2 separate regions of the Homo sapiens genome follow, and region 1 is linked to region 2. Evidence: fine-mapped expression QTL. A gene starts in region 2. The other region holds a variant in brackets. All regions are shown on one strand. Distances are from middle to middle.

Region 1 (5,370 bases), 41 kb before region 2:
TGGGATTACAGGCGCCCACCACCACACCCAGCTGATTTTGTATTTTTAGTAGAGATGAGATTTCACCATGTTGGCCAGGCTGGTCTCGAACTCCTGACCCCAGGTGATCTGCCCGCCTCGGCCTCCCAAAATGCTGGGATTATAGGGGTGAGCCACTGCACCTGGCCCCGAGTCTTGGTGGTTCACGGCAGCAGGGTTCTGTCTGGTTCATGCTCCGTTTGTGGCTGCGTGGCTGGTGCCCTCCACTACATCCGCTCACTCCAGGGCCTAGGCTGTGGGAGCAGCTATTGCCTCCGTGGTCACGGTGTGGGGACGGGAGACCGAGGGTCTTGTCCATGTCCCAGTCCCCTGAGAGGTTCTGGCTCTGCTCAGACACCGAGTCCCTGGGGCTGCTGTACCACCACCAGGCAGGAGAGGGTGCCAGAGACGTGTGGAGGATTTAAAAACGGAAGGATCTTAGGTGCAGACAGGTGTCTGATGGGAGTCAACAGCGTGTCTCAACTCGCTATTATAAAAAGAGCAAGCCCAGACTAGAAGGAAGCCGTCTTAACCTGTTTAGGAACATCTGCCCAGAAACTACAGCACACATCGAACCCCTCCGCTTGCTGGGACTTGAGAATCACTCCCACAGAAGCCAGCGGACATGGGAGATGTTGGCGATGGCTGTGCCTTCCCTCTATGGGGGTGCTGGAGGCTTCACCAAGTCCGTGAGACAAGAGCAAGAAGAAATGAAGACCAGCATTGGGAAACAAAACTGTCCTGATTTGTTTCATTTTAATTTATTTTTTGTAGAGACAGGGTTTTGCTATGTTGCCCAGACTGGCCTTGAACTCCTGGGCTCAAGTGATCTGCCTGCCTTGACCTCCCAAAGTGCTGGGATTACAGGTGTAAGCCATTGTACCTGGCCTTTATTTCATATAATGTGATTATCAAGATGTAAAAGCCAACTGGCTGGGCACGGTGGCTCACGCCTGTATTCCCAGCATTTTGGGAGGCTGAGGCAGGCAGATCACCTGTGGTTGGGAGTTCAAGACCAGCCAGGCCAACATGGTGAAACCCCATCTCTACTAAAAATACTAAAATTACCCGGGAGGTGGTGGTGGTGGGCACCTGTAATCCCAGGTACTCGGGAGGCTGAGGCAGGAGAATGGCTTGAACCTGGGAGGCGGAGGTTACAGTGAGCCGAGATCACACCATTGCATTCCAGCCTGGGTGACAGAGCAAGACTCTGTCTCAAAAACAAACAAAAACAAACAAACAAACAAAGAAAGAAACATGAAGATGTAAAAACCAAGAGAATTTTTGACTCTATTATTTGAACTAATGAGAGGGTTCAGTAATGTTGGAGACAAGGTTGATGAGGGAAAAAACAATAGCGTATGTTTACACCAGTAGAAACCAAGCTGAAATATAATAGAAAAATACTTCATTAACAGCAGCCTCAAAACCTACGAAGATACCTATGTAGAAAACGTCAGATGGAAGGTGTCCAGGCCACTATAACATTGCAAAGGGCATAAAAGAAGACTTGACTGATGGAGACGTATGCCACGTTCATGAATGAAAAGTGTAAGTTTTGAAAAATGAGATTAATTTTAAAAAGTGAAAAACGAGGTCGATTCTCCGCAAACAGCCTTTCTCAATCCCAGCTGAGTTTTTCGTGGGATTTGGCCGGCTGGTCCAAAGGTCCACGTGGAAGGCCAGAGAGCCAAGCAGAGCTAAGTGAGTTTCAGAGAAGAATCATGTGGGACGCCTGCCTCTAAGACAGCGTGGCATTGGTGCCGGGATAGGCAAGTGGATGCCTGGAACAGCCCATGTGCTTACGATGATGCTTTGAGGTGGGTGGGTGCTCCACATCTACAAGGAAGGAGGGTTGTTCTCTGAGGGTGCTGGGCCGGGCTGTTCCCTGAGTGTGCTGGGCTGGGCTGTCCCCTGAGTGTGCTGGGCTGGGCTGTCCCCTGAGTGTGCTGGGCTGTCCCCTGAGTGTGCT[G/A]GGCCGGGGCTTCTCTACATGGGGAAAATTAGGTGCCTGTGTCACGCTCTAAACAAAAATAAAACACCAGGTAGATTAAACAACTCAGATGTGAAAAGCTAAACCTGAAAACATTTAGAAGGAAAACAGGCATAATATTGATGACCTCAGGGTAGGAAAGGGTTTCTTAAGTCACTAAAGTCACAAGCTATCAAAGTAAAGAGAGACGCATTTGACCACATTACATTTTAAAAACTGTGTTTGAAAAAAGACAACATAACTAAGTAAAAATACAAGCCAGGGAGTGGAAGGAGGTCATCTCTGTGCATCCGGCGCTGAGGCCGGAGTCCAGGAGATCTAGCGAACGTCATGGTCAGACAAGCAGCCCAGGGTTGAGGCGGGGGTCACACAGGAGGAGACGCGGACAGGCGGGGGTCACACAGGAGGAAACACGGACAACACAGGGAGTAGCCAGCAGGGAGGCTCGGCCACTGGGACCCCAGGAAGGGCGTGATAATCCTTGAGACCAGCTGAAGGTTCTCACACCTCCAGAGAGAACATGCTGGGGCGTTTAGGGGAGAGCGGTTGGTCAGGGCAGCCAAGCTGAGGACACAGTCCTGCTTCTGGGCACCCAGGGAGCTGCCCACCCGGGAGGATGGAGACTGGAAATGGCCTGCATGCTGGTCCACCAGGAACGGGCTGCTCCTCTGGGCATATTCATCCTCTGGATGGGGCCCAGCACTAAACCGGAACTGCCTGTCTTGACAAGGAGGCATCGCAAACCCAGCATCGAGCAGAAGGAATGAATCGCGGGTCTCTAATCCTGCACCCTGATGCTGTCCGTTTCTGTGAATGTGAAACAGGACCCTAATGCTGGACACTTACAAAAGTAGTAAAATTATAAAATATTTTGAGAGGCACTGGATTCAGGGTCACGGTTGCCTCTGGAGAGGGTTGGAGAGCAGGGAGGGGCACCCACTTCTGCCCGTGATGTTTATTCCTTGATGGAAAACACCTGAGCTAGAGTGGCAGGTCTGATATTAGTTACAGCTGACGGTGAGGAGGTAGTGGTCATGTCCATTCCATTACTCTGTTCTTCATAGGGTTTGAAATCATCCATAACAAAAAAGTCAGAGGGGCCGGGCACGGTGGCTCATGCCTGTAATCCCAGCACTTTGGGAGGCCGAAGCGGGTGGATCACCTGAGGCCAGGGGTTCGAGACCAGCCTGGCCAACATGGCAAAACCCCATCTCTACTAAAAATATAAAAATTAATTAGCTGGGCATGGTGGCACATGCCTGTAATCCCAGCTGCTCGGGAGGCTGAGGCAGAAGGATCACTTGAACCCAGGAGGCGGAGGCTGCAGTGAGCTGAGATTGCGCCACTGCTCTCCAGCTTTCATGACAGACTTTGTCTCCAAAAAAAAAAAAAAGAAAAAAGAAAGATTTAGCACTATTCATTCATTTGAGGAAAAAAGTGGCCGGCGCTGTGGCTCACGCCTGTGATCCCAGCACTTTGGGAGGCTGAGGTGGGTAGATCATGAGGTCAGACCATGAGGTGGGATCAGAAGACCAATACCCCAGGGTTGGCTCCCTAAGACCAGCCTAAACTGGCAGCCCAGGGCTGAGGGCACGGCCAGAGCTGGGGCCCTCGCCCACCCACCACCCACCTGCATGGGGAGGGGCCTTGGGGTGACTGAGCGTGAGAGGGGCTGTGCGGAGGTGGCTGTGATGGTCTCTGGTCCCGCCTCTGGGGCAGGTGGTGCTGACAGGGCAGGATTTGGGCAGCAGGAGTCAGGGGCTCCCAGGGAAGCCTGGAGAGGCTGAGCATGGGGTTGGACCTCAACAGGCACTTTTGGGAAATCTTGTTGGGGGCTGGGGCTGGTGGAGAAGAGTTGGGGTCCTCGTGGGAGGGCAAGGCAGGCCTGCTGGGGCTGGGTAGGGCTGGGGAGGGATGAGAAGGAAGAAGTGTTTCCTTTTGTTTTTTTAAATTATACTTTAAGTTTTAGGGTACATGTGCACAATGTGCAGGTTTGTTACCTATGTATAATGTGCCATGTTGGTGTGCTGCACCCATTAACTCGTCATTTGTATTAGGTATTTCTCCTAATGCTATCCCTCCCCCCTCCCCCACCCCACAACAGGCCCTGGTGTGTGATGTTCCCCTTCCTGTGTCCATGTGTTCTCATTGTTCAGTTCCCACCTATGAGTGAGAACATGTGGTGTTTGGTTTTTTCGTCCTTGCGATAGTTTGCTGAGAATGATGGTTTCCAGCTTCATCCATGTCCCTACAAAGGACATGAACTCATCATTTTTTTATGGCTGCATAGTATTCCATGGTGTATATGTGCCACGTTTTCTTAATCCAGTCTATCATTGTTGGACATTTGGGTTGGTTCCAAGAAGAAGTGTTTCTAGAAGGATCTTCCGGAGGCTGAGAGAAGGAGGGAGTGGGGAGGCTGGTGGGAACTGGGAGGGCAAGGGAAGGTGAGGCGTGGGGGCCAGAGACCCTGGAAGGTCTCCCCAAAGTGGACAGAGTATCTGGAGACCCAGAAGGTGGAGAATACGGTGGGGCCCGGTGGGCTTCAGAGGGCCTGGGAGCTGGGTAGTAGGGGCCCCCCTCGGGCACTCGAGAAAGACCCCTCCATGCTGAGCTCTAGCCATTTATTCCAGTCCAGAGGTACGGGTCTTAGAGCACCCGAGGCCACTCCTGTCCCCAGGTCACTGTGGCTCCTGACCAGCCCTCAGGAGCCGAAGGGCGGGACCCCTCCCCGTACCCCATGTTGGGTGCTGACCAGCCACTGTGTGCGTCATTAGGTAGGGCTGAATTAAAACCCCATAAATCTCATAAATAAATAAGGTGGCTGGGCCAGCCCTGTGTGCAAACACTCAGCATCGGTGTGGCTGCACCCGTTGCTGGGGGAGCCCGGGACCCCCCTCCCCTCCTCGCCCTTGTCCCTGGTCCCTTGCTCTCCTCCCTCCTCCGGAATTCTAGCTCTTTCTCTCCAAACCAGGCGGTGACACCTCTGCGCTCCCAGTGTCCTTTTGAGGCTGAAGGGGGCGGCGTCCCACAGGGCAGGGGCCTGGCCTTGTCTGGGTCTGGGGGCTCAGGACTCTGGGGGCTGTTGCATCTCTGCTTGGACCCAGAGTGGGGTCTGTGCCACCCTGGATGGCGGCTCACAGAGGGCAGGGCTGTGGGGGACAGAACTTGGGCCGTGGAGAGGCCTCAAGAGGAGGTGAGCTTGGGGCATCTCCTGGGCCCATTACAGAGCATGAGGTTGTGTGCTGGGGGCGGCCGGGGCTGAGACTGCACCGTGGGGCAGCCAGGGCTGAGTCCATCACAGAGCATGAGGTTGGGCTGTGGGGGAGGCCGGGGGCGGCCCGGGCTGAGACTATGCGGTG
Region 2 (5,370 bases):
TATTTACTCACTCATTCACTCACTCATTAATTCACCCATTCACTCACTCACTTATTCACTCATAGACTCATACACTCACTCATTCACTCACGCATCCACTCATTCACTCACTCATTTACCCACTCATTCACTCATTCACTCACTCACTCATTTATTCACCCATTCACTCACTCATTCATTCACTCACTCACTGACTCATTGACTCATTCCCTCACTCATTCACCCATTCACTTACTCATTCACTCACCCATTTATTCACTCACTCACTCATTTACTCATTCATTCACCCATTCACTCACTCACTGACTCATTGACTCATTCACTCATTCACCCATTCACTTACTCACTCACTCATTTACTCACTCATTCATTCATTGACTCATTAACTCATTCACTCTCTCATTCACTCACTCACTGACTCATTAACTCATTCACTCTCTCATGCATCCACTCATTCACTCACTCACTGACTCACTCATTCACTCACTCATTGACTCACTCATTTGGTTATTCACTCATTCACTCACTCACTGACTCATTCACTCACTCATTCACTGCTCACTTATTCACTCTTTCACTATCTCTTTCATTCACATTCATTCATTAACTCAGTCACTCACTCATTCACTCTCACTCATTCACTTACTCATTCACTCATTCACTCATCTATTCATTCACTCATTCACTCACTCATTCATTCACCCATTCACTCATTCATTCACCCATTCACTCACTCACTTATTCACTCATAGACTCATACACTCACTCACTCATTGACTCACTCACTCATTCACTCATGCATCCACTCATTCACTCACTCATTTACTCACTCACTCACTCATTCATTCACCCATTCACTCAATCATTCATTCACTCACTCACTGACTCATTGACTCATTCCCTCACTCATTCACCCATTCACTTATTCATTCACTCACCCATTTATTCACTCACTCACTCATTTACTCATTCATTCACCCATTCACTCACTCATTCACTCACTCACTAACTCATTGACTCATTCACTCACTCATTCCCCCTTCACTTACTCACTAACTTATTTACTCACTCATTCACTCACTCATTCATTGACTCATTAACTCATTCACTCTTTCACTCACTCACTGACTCATTCACTCATTCACTCACTCATTCACTCACTCACCCACTCATTGACTCACTCATTCACTTATTCACTCATTCACTCACTCACTGACTCATTCACTCATTCACTGCTTGCTTATTCACTCTTTCACTATCTCTCTCATTCACATTTATTCATTAACTCAGTCACTCACTCATTCACTCTCTCATTCACTTACTCATTTACTCACTCATTTACTCATTCACTCTCTCATTCACTTACTCATTTACTCACTCATTTACTCACTCACTCACCTGTTCACTCACTCGCTCACTCATTCACATTCATTTTAACTCACTCATTTACTCATAGACTCACTCATTTATCCACTTACTTATTCATTACCTCATTCATTCACTCACTCAATCATTTTCCCTTTCCCCACACTCCTGCCACATGTGAAGTGCTCTTTCTCTAGGCACCTGGGCTAAGACAGGACATGGGGAGGGAAAGGCACAGAAATGGAGAAGTAGGCAATCATAAAGAGCTTGGGACGGGTCCCTAGAGAGCTGGAAGCAAGTGCTCAGAACAGCCTTGAGGCACCTCTTCAACCCTAACCCCTCTGCAGCAGGACAAAGGGCCCAGCCCAGCCTCTCCCTTTCCTGCCATTCCTCCCATGGGAGACCTTCTGGTTGGACGCTCCACATGGGCAGTGGAGCAGCCGACCTTGGCTGGGGAGTGTGTGGCTGCCTGGGAGGGAGAGTCTAGCCACAGTGTCCAGCCACACACCTGTGGTCTGGGCAAGTGTTCATCACACAACAGCACCTTCTCAGCCAGAGCCCTTCAGGCCAAAGACTCACTGGGACCTTTCTGTGCTGGGACTGCTCGGACCAGTCAACAGCTTCCTGTCCAGAGGGTACTGAGCATTTCTGGATCTTGGTGGCCAGAGACCATCAAGTGACTTGAACTGGCCCTGCCCGCCTGGGGTCAGGAGACAGAAGCACAGGTGGACTCCTGGGCAATGCTGGGAGGGGGCTGCATGGTGAGGGAGGGGTTCTATCATTTGCCTGGAGGCTGCTGCCAGGAGCCCCTCTCCAGGGAGGGTGAGGCTGGCTGGCGCTACTTCAGTGGCAGCATGTGGCTGGCCTGAGGGACGCCTTGGCTCACTCACTCCTCAATCACTCATTTACTCATTCATTCACTCACTCAATCATTTTTCCTTTCGCCACACTCCTGCCGCATGTGCTCTCTCTCTAGGCATCCGGGTAAGACAAGACATGGGGAGTAAAAGGCACAGAAATGGAGAAATAGGTGACCATAAGGAGCTTTGGATGGGGCTGGGGCTGGCCTCTCCCTCCCAGGCAGCCACACATTCCCCAGCCAAGGTCGGCAGCTCCACTGCCCATGTGGAGGGTCCAACCAGGAGGTCGGCCATGGGAGGAATGGCAGGAAAGGGAAAGGCTGGGCTGGGCCCCCTGTCCTGCTGCAGAGGGATTAGTGTCAAAGAGGTGCCTTAAGGCTGTTCTGAGCACTCACTTCTGGGCACCAGGAACTCACAGGCTGCTGGGCATGGCACGGTGCCCAGGGAGAGTCTAGGGTGGGGTATGTGGGGAGGACCCCTGCAGGCCAGGGCTTGGGGGGGCCCTCGGAAACTGGGCTCTATCCGGCAGACACACCCATCTCCGCCTGCCACCGGCCGCTGGCCAGCCCGCAGTGAGCACCCACTGTTTACTTGGGTGAGGGGGAACCACAGGCCCCGCCCTGCCCACCCACGTGAAGCACGGGGCTGGAGCCAGCTCTGGGGCTACAAAAAGCTCCTGCCACCTTGGGTCCCTCCTCAGAGGCTGCTGAGGGACAGGGCACTCTTCCCCGCCGTCCACACAATGAGTGTTGGCCGGAGGAAGCTGGCCCTGCTCTGGGCCCTGGCTCTCGCTCTGGCCTGCACCCGGCATACAGGTACGGCTTGGCCCCTGGCCGCTCTACTGGTCCTGGGTGGTGCGGTACTGAGTGGGCCTCAGGCAGCTCAGTCTTTGCCCTGGGTTCCGGGCAGGCTGCATGTGCCATGAACGGCTCCCAGCAGCATAGCCCCTGACTGTGGCCTGGCCACGAACGAGCAGTTTCCCCTTGTGGGGTTGGGAAGGGATCTCTGGGCTTCGCGGACCTCTGAGGCTGGGCCATTCCCTGAGGCAGGGAAGTAGGAGCTCAGATCTCGGGCTTTCCCTCCCGGCCCGGATCCCTGCACCTGTCCCCAGAAGCCGACAGCACCTGGCCCACAGTATCTCCAGCTGCTCATGGCCCCTGCTGGGCCTGGTCGGGGCATTAGCCCCAGGCACCTGCCCTTGCACACCCCACACATGCCCAGTTCACCAGCTCACGTTCCCTGTCTGGGCCTCGATGGGGATCTCCTGCGGGGGGAGGTCTCAGCCTCTGAGCTGGGATGTGATGGTGAGGCCCACAAGGGAACTGTTTCACCCCCGCCCTGAGGCTAAGAGGGTGATGGGGGAGGCTCCAGGTCCTGTGGTCTGGACTGCCCCTTGCTGGGCCAGCAGTTCCCTTCCTCTGCTTCTGAGGGACACCTGGGACCGGGTCTGCTGGTGACCATGTGCCCCCATGGGGTAATGCCGGGGTTTGGAGGGGGGTGGGTGCTCCTGGGCTCCTGGAACAGCAGGGCAGGGACCTCAGCACTGCCGAGACCGCCACATGGCCCACCCAGGTCCCTCGCCCAGCCCTGTCCCCAGCCTCTGGCCCTCTGCCAGGCAGTCTCAGAGCAAGAAGAACCCTCTCCCGGTGTCTCCGTGCCACCCTCCACTGTGGCCTAGTCGGACTCTGCCCCGCCGTCCCTCGTCTGTACCACCCTCATCTCAGAAGCAGGAATTCTGTCCCGGGGCTGCTCCCAGGAGAGGGCGGAGCTGGGGCTGGGGTCTGCGGGGGCTTAGAAGGTGGGGGCAGGCCTGGGCTGGGACTAGATAAGTGAGGCTCAGGCCGTCATCTCCGTCTCCCCCACGGGGCTTGCAGATGCTAACACCCCTCCGCCCACTGACGGATTTGATGCAGTGGGCCCCACTGGGGCCAGAGGGTGTGAGGGCGAGGGGGGTCTCCCAGCCTGGCCTGAGGACCCCTATGCCAGTTGCGGGAACTGGAAAGCTGGGGCTGGGGTGCAGGCGAATCACAGCTTTCCCTAAGACCCCTCTCTGCAGGTCCTGGGCTGGGCCGGGCGCCCCTCCCACCATGCTGGTGCTGTGCGGGGCTGTGCGGGGCTGTGCGGGGCTGGGGTCCAGTCCCACGATGATGGTGCTGGGCGGGGCTGTGCGGGGTTGTGTGGGGGGTCTGGTCCCCCCATGCTGGGGTGCTGTGCGGGGCTGTACGAGGCTGTGAGGGGCTGTGCGAGGCTGGGGTCTGGTCCCACCATGCTGGTTCTGTGCGGGGCTGTGCGGGGCTGTGCGGGGCTGTGCGGGGCTGTGCGGGGCTGTGCGGGGCTGTGCGGGGCTGTGCGGGGCTGGGGTCTGGTCCCACCATGCTGGCTCTGTGCAGGGCTGTGCGGGGCTGGCGTCTGGCCCCACCATGCTGGTTCTGTGCGGGGCTGTGTGGGGCTGTGTGGGGCTGTGCGGGGCTGGGGTCTGGTCCCACCATGCTGGCTCTATGCAGGGCTGTGCGGGGCTGGGGTCTGGTCCCACCATGCTGGCTCTGTGCAGGGCTGTGCAGGGCTGGCGTCTGGCCCCACCATGCTGGTTCTGTGCGGGGCTGTGTGGGGCTGTGTGGGGCTGTGTGGGGCTGGGGCTGGTCCCACCATGCTGGCTCTGCGACGGGCTGTGCGGGGCTGTGTGGGGCTGGGGCTGGTCCCACCATGCTGGCTCTGTGCAGGGCTGTGCGGGGCTGGGGTCTGGTCCCACCATGCTGGCTCTGTGCAGGGCTGTGCGAGGCTGTGGTCTGGTCCCACTATGCTGGCTCTGTGCAGGGCTGTGCGGGGCTGGGCCGGGCTGAAATCTGGTGACATTCTGCACATTAGCACAGTCTCTATGGACCCTGAAGATCAGCCTCCTGCAGGGTCTGCTGCTTGTAGGGAGGCAGGGTCCTCCAGGTGGTCTTGGGGCCGACCCCTCCCATGCCTTTGACTGCTCCAGCCCCTCAGTGGGATCACTGTACTGGACAGGGGTCCCAAGCGTGGCAGCGTGGGGGCCAGGGCCTGGCACGCTTGGCAGTGAGTGGGAATGAATAGATAGGGATGCCAGATCGGGGCGAAGGGTCCTGACGCCACCTGCTCCATGGGGCCAGGCTGAGGAGATGCT

Evidence for each region. PIP is the estimated chance that this variant, and not a neighbour inherited with it, causes the effect. A credible set is the group of variants that fine-mapping cannot tell apart.
Region 1: its variant is the best candidate, but not a certain one, in a credible set for the expression of MUC5AC in lung (TOPMed, PIP 0.52).

Annotation. Positions count from the first base shown.
Region 1 is chr11:1,114,497-1,119,866 of GRCh38, forward strand. No RefSeq gene overlaps it. Among named protein-coding and RNA genes, the nearest start is that of MUC5AC, 41 kb to the right of the region's middle. RefSeq lists an enhancer at 1-10. The variant G/A (reference allele first, on the strand shown) is at 1,991.
Region 2 is chr11:1,155,033-1,160,402 of GRCh38, forward strand. It overlaps MUC5AC (mucin 5AC, oligomeric mucus/gel-forming), which reads left to right and starts at 2,921. Exons shown (of 49, transcript NM_001304359.2): 1 at 2,921-3,040. The coding sequence starts at 2,968.